Linked DNA regions of Homo sapiens: region 2 is linked to region 1. Evidence: fine-mapped expression QTL. A gene starts in region 1. The other region holds a variant in brackets. All regions are shown on one strand. Distances are from middle to middle.

Region 1 (5,366 bases):
CTGTGCAATTGGGAGGTCACAGAGGGAAGCAGAGATACTCCTCCCTGCTTGCAATGGAGGAATGCTGCCTGGAGTAGCCACACGATGTCCTGGAAGGGCACCTGTGAGAAGGCTGGAGGCCTGGGTTCTAGTCTCACACTTGGGAGCAGAAGGTCTTCAGTGAGCTCCTCCTCCCTTTCACCAGGACATTTTTTCAGCCGCACTGCCTATCCAGGGCTGGGCACTGGGGGAAGAGCACAGGATGGGGAAACCTTAAACCTTTCCCCAGCAGAAAGTGCGGCCTCAGTTCTGACTGCTGGGGCCTGAACAATCTCTGATGAACAAACAGAACATAAACAGATCACCAACAGGGGAGGGCCAAGTAACATGGCTTCAGCACAAAGTGCATGGCTAGCACTTGGAAGACAGGAAGAACCTAGGAAGGCTGCCTGGAAGAGGTGGTGTATGGAATATCCCTGAAAGAAAAGTGATGAGGAAGGGCATTCCAGAAAGGGGGAAGAGGGAGGGCAAATGCCCACAAGCAGGATGGTGCGCATTCCTTCTGGGAATTCTGGGATCTGACTGGCGGGAACAAAAGGCCCAAGTTTGGAGTAATGGGGCACGGGGAGATTCCAACCTCTCCAGGCTGTGCCACTTACTAGCTGTGTGGCTACAGTTATGTGGCTGCGTGAGCCTCAAGTTCCTCATGTATAAAACGGAGGTAAAAACAGTCACTGCCTCTGGGGTTGCTGGTGAGCATTACATGAGATCAGTCTCATAAAGCACTCAGCACAGTTGCGGCGTGCAGTAAGTGTCAAGCAGTGGCAGCCTCTGTTAGGAGCTGGGACTTTCTCCAGGCACTGGGGAGCCATAGGCGGATCCTGGGCAGGGAGGTGGTGTGATTGGATTTATGCTTTAGAATGGCATGGAGAAGGGGTAGAGTCCAGAAGGAGGGAGACAACGAGGAGGCCTGAGCAGCTGCCTGGGACCAAAGGAAATGGCCCAGTGGCTGACCCCTTCTTCACAGAGGAGCCCCCAGATCTGACAGCCAGGTCCCAGCCCCCAGACCCAGCAGCATGACCGCTAGGGGGTTGCCATGGCCGCCCATCACCCTCGAACTTTCCTAGCCCTCAAACTTTTCTAGCTGCTGGGGGTTTAGAAGGATATCTTAAGAATCTAGAAAATTTGCAAATCCATTTAAATCCCCAGAGGTTGCCTGGCGGCTGACTGGCCTAAAGCCAGACTGATTCTTAGAAACAAGGCTTGGGCCAAGGAACAGCGGCTATGGTCCTGAGGTCCCCAGTCCCCTGCTTTCTGTGTACCCTGCCTACCTTCTCCCAATTCCCCTCTCCCGCTCTTCCCAGCTCTCCCCACTCCCCATTGACTGTGCTGTGCTTTGGAGGCCCCCAGTCAGCACCCAGAAACCCCTGAGGATTGTTTGATGAAGGCAGGAGCAGCAGGGATGATGAGGTGGAGGCCACTCACCCCAGAGCAGGGGAAAGGAGAAAACTGGCTCCTCCATCCCTGACATCACCCACAGTCTCCCAGCCTCCTCTCATCTTGTTTTGTTAAAAATATCTTCCCTTTTTTTTTTTTTTTTTTTTTTTACCTACTCGAAGAGATGCAGGTTAGGGCAAAGGGACAGGGCATGGGGCTGGGGTTCCCACTTTTTCCAGCACTTACCTTGCTGCTGATGGCTTCTGGTGTGGGCACAGTTCCAGGCTCTGGACAGTCACCCCCTCCAGGAAGTCCTCCTTACTGCCCTCTCCCAGTTATCAGAAAGACTGCTGGTCCCAGAGTGGGTAACAGCTGAGTAGAAGGACAGGCAGGACTGGTGCAGGCTCCTGAAGGCTCAGGAGAACAGAGGGATGGAGGAAGGGGGCTGCTGTAGGGGAGAGGAGCGGCCCAGCTTCGCCTCACTCCCCAAGCATCCTTCGGGAGGAGCAGAGCCGCCAGAGGGGCCGCCCTGGGTCTGGCTGTCTGCGTTGGGCAGGGCGAGCACAGGCTGCTGCTGGGCAGCAGGGCTGAGGGGCCGGCTCTCTCCTCCTCCTTGTTGATCTCCTCTCTGGCTCCAAGTTGCTCACAGAGCGATCCTGGGTCCCAGATAGGGCGGGCAGTCACTGCTGGCTGCTGGCAGCCTCAGGAGCTCACACCACTATGGGCTTCCATGCCCCCCCACTTCCCCCGCCACTTTGGGGGAAAGGCTGCAGGGTGGCTTCTGATTGGCCCAGCTGGGAGAAGGGGGGGCGGCGGGGCAGGGAGGGTGGACGCGTGCGTCTGTTTTCAATTTCAGTTTTTTTCCCCCTCTCTCTTTCTTTTCCCCCAAGTTTCTTGTTTTTCTTCTTTTCACTCTGCTTACTCCCTCCCATCGCCCGTTCGCTCAGGATGTGAGGGGATGCTTAGAAATTCCACAGCCCACGCCAGCCGCCAGCTGCTGAGTCACTTTTGTCAAAGAGTGGCCTCGGCCCCACTTTCCCGATGCCCATGTCGGGTGGCGGCCTCCCCTTGCCATGGCACCCAGGGAGATCATTTCTCAGTGCCTCAGTTTCCCCATCTGTAAAGGAGACTCTGATCATCTCTGTGGTTGATTCAGTCAACCTTCATTCATTGAACAAGCATACTGAGCATTTACTACATTCTAACACTGTACTGGGTGCAGGGGACAGTAGCAAGACGTGGTCCTGACCTCAGAAGCACCAGGCTAGTGAGCAAGATATTCATTGGGCAAGCAGGTGCCCGGTCGGCAGACAGGAGGCTGAGAGTGCATTTAGAAGGACCCCTAACGGAAGCCTGAGAGAATCAGAGAGCACTGCTGAGAAGAGGTGACATGGAGGAGATGGAAAGATCCTCCAAGATGATCAGCCGTTTTTCAGAAGGACAAACCAAGGCCCAGGGGTGAATTGGCACAGAGAGGGAATGTGATTTGGTCAAGGTCATCCAGCACAGATTGGATATCTCTGGATATTGACAGATACATTCCTTTTCACGTCTCAAAGCCCCTGGGGTGCAAGGAGAGGATTATTTGCCCCATTTTATAGATGGGGACACTGAGGCCCAGAGGAGCAAAATAAGCTTCCCAAGCTTACGCAGCAATGGCAGAGCTGGGGCAGAACTAGGTCTCATGAGACACATGATGGAAGAGACACAAGTCATCTGACCCCCACCCGAGACCCCTATTCCAGTGTAGATGAACCCCCTGCCCTGCTTTCTTCCTAGGTTCCCCCTGTGGCTCTTTCATTCAGTCACTCAACAAGATACTTTCTTTTTTTTTTTTTTTTTTTTTTTGAGATGGAGTCTTGCTCTGTCTCCCAGGCTGGAGTGCAATGGCGCAGTCTAGGCTCACTGCAACCTCCGCCTCCCAGGTTCAAGTGACTCTCCTGCCTCAGACTCCCAAGTAGCTGGGATTACAGGCGCACACCACCACACCTGGCTATTTTTGTATTTTTTGTAGAGACCGGGTTTCACTATGTTGGCCAGGCTGGTCTCAAACCCCTGACTTCATGATCCACCCACCTCAGCCTCCCAAAGTGCTGGGATTACAGGCTTGAGCCACCGCACCCAGCCTCAACAAGATACTTTCAAGTATCCGTTTTGTTCCATTTCCATTCTCTGGCTCTCCTTTCCTACCAGGGTCTGCCAAGACTCCTCCAGTTCCCCCAGCTGGGTCTCTTCTTCCACCCTCAGCTTCTCAGATCAGAAGACATCTCCAGTTACAGACTCCTAGCCCTCAGATGGCAAAGGGCATTATTTTAGAAGGGCATATAGAGTGGGCTTACCACCCCTGCTCCCACTACTGCACCCACAGGGCAACTGAATTCCAGAGGGTGAAGAAAGCTGTCCCAGGTGACACAGGTAGAGGCTGGCTCTGCCCTCCTTCCCTCTGCGCCGCTAAGTCTTTCCTCCTCAGCTTCCCCCAGACCCCTGTTCACAGAGCAGAGGATTTGCGTGAGCTGGGATTCCATGCCCACCACAGTCAACTATCTTGCATTTCTTGGTCTAGTCCCAATCGGGATTGCCCAGCAGAGCATCTGGGCTGGACCACATAGAAGGAGAAGTGTTCTCAGACTGGTTCCCAGCCACGGGTTGGGGACCATAAGAGTACCCCGAGAGAGGGGGCCTGGCCAGGTCTTTGTGGCAACAGGGAAATAGGGGAATGTGAAAAGATCCCACAGGCCACAAGGTCAGGCTTGCACAGGGATTTCTTGTGCCCAAAGATTCCGTCAGAAATTTACGACTCCCCTCCTAGCATCTGCCTGGGCCATTCACCTCTGAATCCTTGGCTGACCCTCTGCAGCCAGGCCAGCCTGGGGGAGGCCACGAGACACACCAACCCCCTAGTCCCCAAAGAAGCTAGTCTGGGAGTCAGAAGACCCAGCCACAGACTTATCAGGAGAACTTGAATAAGTCCCTTGCCCTGCCTGAGCCTCGGTTTCCCTATTTGTACATAACAGTTGTGGACTCACTGTGCTACAAGGCCCTTGGGATGGTCCGTCTGCAATTTCCCTTAGAGCTGGACTCTAGCAAGGGAGAGGAGGCTGGTGGGCCCTAGGGCAGGGGTACAGCTGGGGCCAGAGATGCAGCACAAAGGGGAGGGGCAGTTGGCGGTGGCTCCCCTGGGAAGCTGGCGGCCTCCAGTTTCCGGCCAGCCCAGCCGTCCTGAGGCCCATCTGGAATTACTTAGCCCCTACTGCCATTAACCCTTGGTGGGCACCAGGACTGTCACTCCTCCTCTCAACTGAGATATGGGTGGGAGGTGCAGAGCTACAGGGAGCAACCCAGGGCACTCACCAAGGGGCAAAATTGTCATGATTGACAGAGGAGGTTGGAGAGCTAGAGATAGAGCTGGGTTCGAATCCCAGCTGCTCCAGTTTCAAGCTACATGAGCTTAGGCAAGTCACTTAAACTCCTGGCCTTGGTTTCCTCCTCTGGAAAATGGAGACAAGTCAAAGACTGATTCATAAGACTCTTCGGTTTGTACAAAGGACTTAGTACATTGCCTCGAAGTGTACTAAGTGTACACTATTACTGAAATAGTGAGTTTCCTCATTCGAGCAGCATTCCATCACTGTGTCTTCCTGGGCGGAGCCTCCCTTTTCTGGGTCTTGGATTCCCCTTGTGCACTCTGCCTTCAGCGGCAATGGACGGGGCACATGGGCAGTGCAGCACCATCACCCTGGGGTGGTCAGCATGGCCCCCAGCCCCACTGTGGACAGGACAAGCTATGAACATCCTCACACCTACACAGATACTGGGAACCCAGTCCAGCCTTGGACAATGCTGTCTTGGGGAAGCCTGGGCTGAGAGTAGGTGGGCAGAGCATGGAATGTGGGGAGCCCTGCCTGAAGTGGACTGGGATGGGGTACAGTGGGAGAGGGGGGCTCTGGGCC
Region 2 (5,366 bases), 90 kb before region 1:
CCTCGGTCTCTCAAAGTGCTGGGATTACAGGCATGAGCTACCATGCCTGGCCGGGCAGTGAGAGACCCTGAGAGTTTGACACAGGTGAGTCGCCATCTGACTTTTTTTTTTTGAGACAGAGTCTTGCTCCTTCACTCATGCCGGAGTGCAGTGGCACGATCATAGCTCACTAGGCTCAAACTCCTGGGCTCAAGCAATCCTTCTGCCTTGGCCTCTCAAAGTGCTGGGATTATAGGCGTGAGCCATCGCACCCAGCCTTGACTTTACCTTTTTGAGAGAGAAAGAGAGACGCTGCCCACTAGATAGATTCTGGAGGACCAGCACCTTTGGAAAGACCTGATTTCCTTCCTTAGGCTCTCCATGCTGTTACCACCCAGCCAGGGGAGGCAAGCCCTGGGATGTGGGGAGGAGGAATGGCTGCCCCTGTTTCTTGCCCAGGGGTCAGCTGCTGAGGGGGAGTACCATGCTAAGGGTTGCCCACAAGAAATGCTGATGGAAGACCAAGTTGAGGGGGAAAGTGGAAGCTGGGCTGGGGCGGTGGAGGACACTGAGGCCCTGGGTCAGCAGAGCAACTCTTTCCGGCCAGGCCTTGGGGATGGGACAAGCTTGGCTGTGCCTGCAGCTGGGCTCCTTCCCTGGGCACCCGAGCTAGAAACTTAAAGGAAGTGTGGACCGGTGCTAGGGAGGAGGCTGGCCTTTAGCTGCAAGTCCTGGTTGAGAGAGAAGATTCCAGTCATGTCCTTTGCAGCAACGTGGTGCAGCTGAAGGCCATTATCCTAAGCAAATTAACACCGAAACAGAAAACCTACATACCGCATGTTCTCACTTATAAGTGGGAGCTAAATATTGAGTGTGCATGGGCATAAAGATGGCACCAACAGACACTGGGGGCTACTAGAGCAGGGAGGGTGGAAGCGGGCGAGGGTTGAAAAACTATGGGAGCTATGCTCAGTAGCAGGTGATGGGATCCATATTCCAAAGCTCAGCATCACGAAACATACGCATGCAACAAACCTGTACGTCTATCCCCTGAATCAAAAATAAAATGTGGACATTTTTAAAGAGAGAGACAGGGAGAAAGCTTCCAGCTAACCATCAGGAAGAACTTCTAGCTGGTAGTTAGAGAGAAAAGACTGCAATTAGAAATGAGAAGGAACTAACTTCCAGGCTCTGATTCGGAAGGGCGGACTGCAGGTGAACTTCAGAGCCTCTGCGTTATAGCTTGGGAGAGAGTCTGAAACGGGACCCAGGGAGAAGAACTTCCCAAGCCTCTGAGGATCCAAATCCTGCCCGTGGGTGCCTTCCCAGCCCAAAAGACAGCAACAAGGCAAGGAGGGGATTCTTCAGCCTCTCCTGGCCACTTCCATCTCTAGGAGCCTCTGTGGCTAAGACTGTTTTTTCTTACCACTTCTTGTTCCTCTGTCCCTCTGCAGCTGGGCTGAGTCAGCCCCTCCCTGCCCCCAGCTGGGCAGGGGGCACTGTTGAAAGGGAGGGGATCAAGGAGGATGGAGGTTTGGCTGGATTCTCAGATTTCTGAATCCTAGGCTCCTAATTTCTGGAAGCGGACCAAGCTGCCTTCTGCCTGCCTCAGGAACCCTCCCCTGCCCCTGCTGGGCATGTAAACCTCCCAGGGCACCTGTGCCATCCCTGGAAAGGGCTCATGGGCGTCTACCCAGAGGCAGCCTCTCTTCCAAAGAACTATGAGTGAGAGATCAAGAGGTGGGGATGGGCGAGGCTCCCTGAGAAGGGTGGACGTAATTGTCATGATGGCAGCGGGTTCTTCCTGAGCTCTTCCTGGGAGTGGGGCGCTGGGCTAGATGCTTGAAGCACATCACCCCATTCATTCCTTGCAATGGGCCTAAGCCCCAGGCCCACCCCCTGACTTCTTCCCTTCCTCCCATCCTCCCCACCAAAGGGGGCATGGAGACAAAGTCCCGGTCCCCTCCCCATCTAGGCCTGCTGGTTCTGGGTGAGTGGATGTTCTCCATCCCAGGAAGGTGGAGATCTGAACAATTCCCAGTGGAATCTTTGGGGACCCTCCTGTTGCTCCTCAGAGCTCAGTTCCAGCCCCCAGAATCGTAGTCTTTCCAGCAGCCTCCCTGGACCCTCCCTTCCCTGCTGCCTCAGCCATTTCCCTGTGCGCCTCCTCCTCCAGGGGAGCCTGCTGACTCCTGCCCTTTTCTCTTCCCCCACGGCCCCCCTTGTGGTCACTCTGGGGGACAGAAAGGTGATGATTCAGCCCTGAGGCAGAACAAACACTCCCCACAGACAGGCCACTTCTTTCCCCAGGCCTGGGCAATGAGGAGAGGCTGGGCTGAGTCCCCAGTGAAGGGGCAAGGCTCCGAACCTCATGGGGCAAGGCAGAGGAGGATGGGAGGGCAGGCACTTAGCACGGGCATGACCATCCTGCCCCCTCCGCTCCCATGGGTGGACACCTCGGCCTGGAGCTAAAGGGTCTGTGAATGGGTGTAGGGGAGGAGGGTAGCTGCAAGTCTTCTCGCAGCCTTGCATGGGCTCCAGGGGCAGCTGAATTTCCTGGACAGGAAGTGTGGAGGTGACATGTTCCAAAAATGGTCCCGTGGAGAGGGGATACAGAGTTCCTAAACCACAGCCAAGGGGGCTGGCCAGCCCAAGGCAGAAAGGGCCGCAGGGGGCCCTAGGCTCTTCTCTGGAATCTCTGCATGACTGTCCTGGCAGCTCTGTGGGCACTGCGAGGCAGTTTTCAGTTCCATGTAAGGAAGAACTTTGCAAACATTGGAGCTGCTCAGAGAAGGAAC[A/G]GGTGGCCCCGAGAGTGAGTAAGGTCCTGTCCCTGGAGGTGGGTGGGCTGGGCCAAACAACCGCTTTGGGTGTGTAGTCAAGGAGATGATGCCCGACCTCAGACCTCCCCCTCCTTCCACCATCCCAAGAGGCATGAGCTAACTCTGGTTCCCCAACGAACTTCCTCCTGGGACAAGAGTGTGCAGCTCCCATCACAGAGACTGTCTCGTCCAGCACCCCGCTCAGTCCTCTATGTGCGTTGTGGTACGGAATCCCTCACAACAGGCTGTTAATGATCCCATTTTACAAATGGAGAAGAGACTCAGACACACCAACTTTCTCATCATCCCATAGCCAGAGCTTGGCAGAGGCAGGATTTGGACCCAGATTCACTGAAGTCCAAGTTTCTGGTGCTTAAACTAGACCACCAGTGGGCTCTTGGCATGTCAGAGGAGGAGGGGCTGTTAGAGAACACCCAGACCCATGGTATAAGAGGGGAAACTAAGGCCCAGAGAGGACAGCGAGTCAGCTGAGGTTACATGGCAAAACAGTGTCAGAGCTGGACCTAGATCCGGAGGTATTGACCGGGGCTGCCCTCAGAGCAGCCTTCTCATGCTGAGTGCTGGCAGGAGTAGAGATCCCGATCCATGTGCCCCTGGGGCTCCCCCAACATCCTTCCCACCCTGCCCACTTCAAGCCCTCTTCTCACAAAAGCCCCAAGGGGGTGTGGGGAAGAAAAGGTAGCCAAGGGGACACAAGATGGGTCATTCAGTCCTTGATCACACCACTCCCTTGTTCAAACCCACTGATGGCCTTGGACCGACAGGGTGGGGTCCAACCCTTCAGACCCCCAACCCCACCCTGGTCCTTCCCTCACCTGCACCTCTGCACACTCTGCCCTCTCCCCCAGAGGTACCCTTTCCCTTAGTGTCATCTCCCCTGCTGCATCCTCATCCTCCAAAGCCCGTCCCACCAATGCCAAGCCACCTCCTCCAGGCAGTCTCCCTTACCCACCAGCCTGAAAAGTCCGTCCACCTCTGAACTCCCACAGCCCTCTGGCCTGGTCCTCTCAGCTTCTGATCACATTGCACATGGTCTTTGTGTGGGCAGGCAGGCAGTGGAGGCCATGGGCTCTAGGGACAGAAGCCCCTGGGGCCCAGTGCCAACCCTATCCCTCAGCCCCTTGGGGTTTTTTTTTTTAACCTTGCTGAGCCTCAGCTTCCTGATGGGTAAGATACTGACTAGTATACTTCCTGCCTCCAGCTTCTTGTGAGGGTAAAATAAGATGAGTCAATGTTTCACATAATGATTGGGACATGCTTTGGAGTGAGTCCTCCTTCAGGGTTAAAAACCAGACTCTGCCTTTGACCAGCTGTAGACAAGGGCAACTGTCCCAACCTCTCAGAACCTCAGTTTACAACTCTGTAAAACAGACTAATGCTAGCTGCATACAGTGGTTGCTGAGGGCATTAAATGAGATGATGTAGGTAACATGCTATAGAAAAATGCCCCTCAAATCACTGTCATATACTGAGCAGACAGTGACAGGAAGCACACTATACGCAACATGCACTAAATTGTGGCTTTGGCTAATAGGACAGTAACATGAAATAATGAAGAGGATGATGGTCACAGGCCCTCGTCTTCACTAGACCATGTGCTTCTTAGGGCAGGGCTCAGGCCTGGCCCAGGGGACACCACGCTTGTATATCCATTTCCTCTGCCCCGTGCTGGGTGCCAGGACACCCCTGGGCTGAGACAGGATCCCAGGGCTGCGCTGCCTCAGAATGCCATTCCTCTCCTCATAGCCTCTCACTCTATAATCCATGCTCTTGCTTTCACGGCTTTTTGTTTGTTTTTTGAGCTGGGATCTGGCTGTATCACCCAGGCTGGTCCCTAACTCCTGGCCTCAAGCAATCCCCCTGCCTCAACCTCCCAAGTAGCTGGGATTACAGGTGTGCCCTTGCTTTAATGGCTATTTGATTAGCACCTGTCTCTCGCACTAGACAGTAAACGCTATTAGGGCAGAGCCTCAGAGGCCACCCAGCAGCTGACTCATGTTGGCATACAGTAGGCACCCACTAAAGAGCTGTTAGCTGATGGACTGACTGAGGAGGAGGAAGGGTGAATCCATGCAGCCTGGGGGTACCATCCAAATCTGGCTCACTCAGGCACCTGGCAGCCCCACTCCGCTCCGGCTCACCTGCTTATACTTGTACAATAGCAGCAGGAGCAGCAGCAGCAGCAAGGCCATGATGGACATGCAGGCGACCACCACTGGTGTGAAGAGGAACTCATCCGGGGGATGCGTGTGGGCTCCTGGAAGGCATGAAGCAAAGCAGTGAGCAGGCAGGGGTGCCTCCGAGCCCCCTGAGGTCAGGCCTGCACACTGCCTGGAACACAGTGGGTGCTCAATAAATGCTTGTTGACTGAATGAAGCATCCTCCACTGGAAGCCTCTGGAGCCTCTCCTGCACACCCTCCCCGAGAAAGGCAGAGAGGACGGCCTCTTCAGCTCTGCTCATGCCCAGCCCCAAACCCTGTCCAGAGTCACAGCCTCCTGTGGCTGGGGGTAGGGAGCCTCTGGGGTCATGCAGTCTCACCCTCTGC

Direction of the effects. Positions count from the first base shown, and alleles are read on the strand shown. Sizes are in standard deviations (SD) of each study's normalised expression.
With allele A in place of G in region 2, the expression in tibial artery of the gene that starts at base 2,111 in region 1 is lower (small effect, 0.26 SD a copy in GTEx).

The links. PIP is the estimated chance that this variant, and not a neighbour inherited with it, causes the effect. A credible set is the group of variants that fine-mapping cannot tell apart.
Region 2: its variant is the best candidate, but not a certain one, in a credible set for the expression of PDGFRB in tibial artery (GTEx, PIP 0.59).

The regions. Positions count from the first base shown.
Region 1 is chr5:150,153,735-150,159,100 of GRCh38, forward strand. It overlaps PDGFRB (platelet derived growth factor receptor beta), which reads right to left and starts at 2,111. Exons shown (of 23, transcript NM_002609.4): 1 at 1,663-2,111. RefSeq lists an enhancer at 4,029-4,817.
Region 2 is chr5:150,063,255-150,068,620 of GRCh38, forward strand. It overlaps CSF1R (colony stimulating factor 1 receptor), which reads right to left. Exons shown (of 21, transcript NM_001288705.3): 10 at 4,961-5,076. Among named protein-coding and RNA genes, the nearest start is that of CSF1R, 21 kb to the right of the region's middle. RefSeq lists a silencer at 1,581-1,756 and enhancers at 3,707-3,756, 4,683-5,366. The variant A/G (reference allele first, on the strand shown) is at 2,778.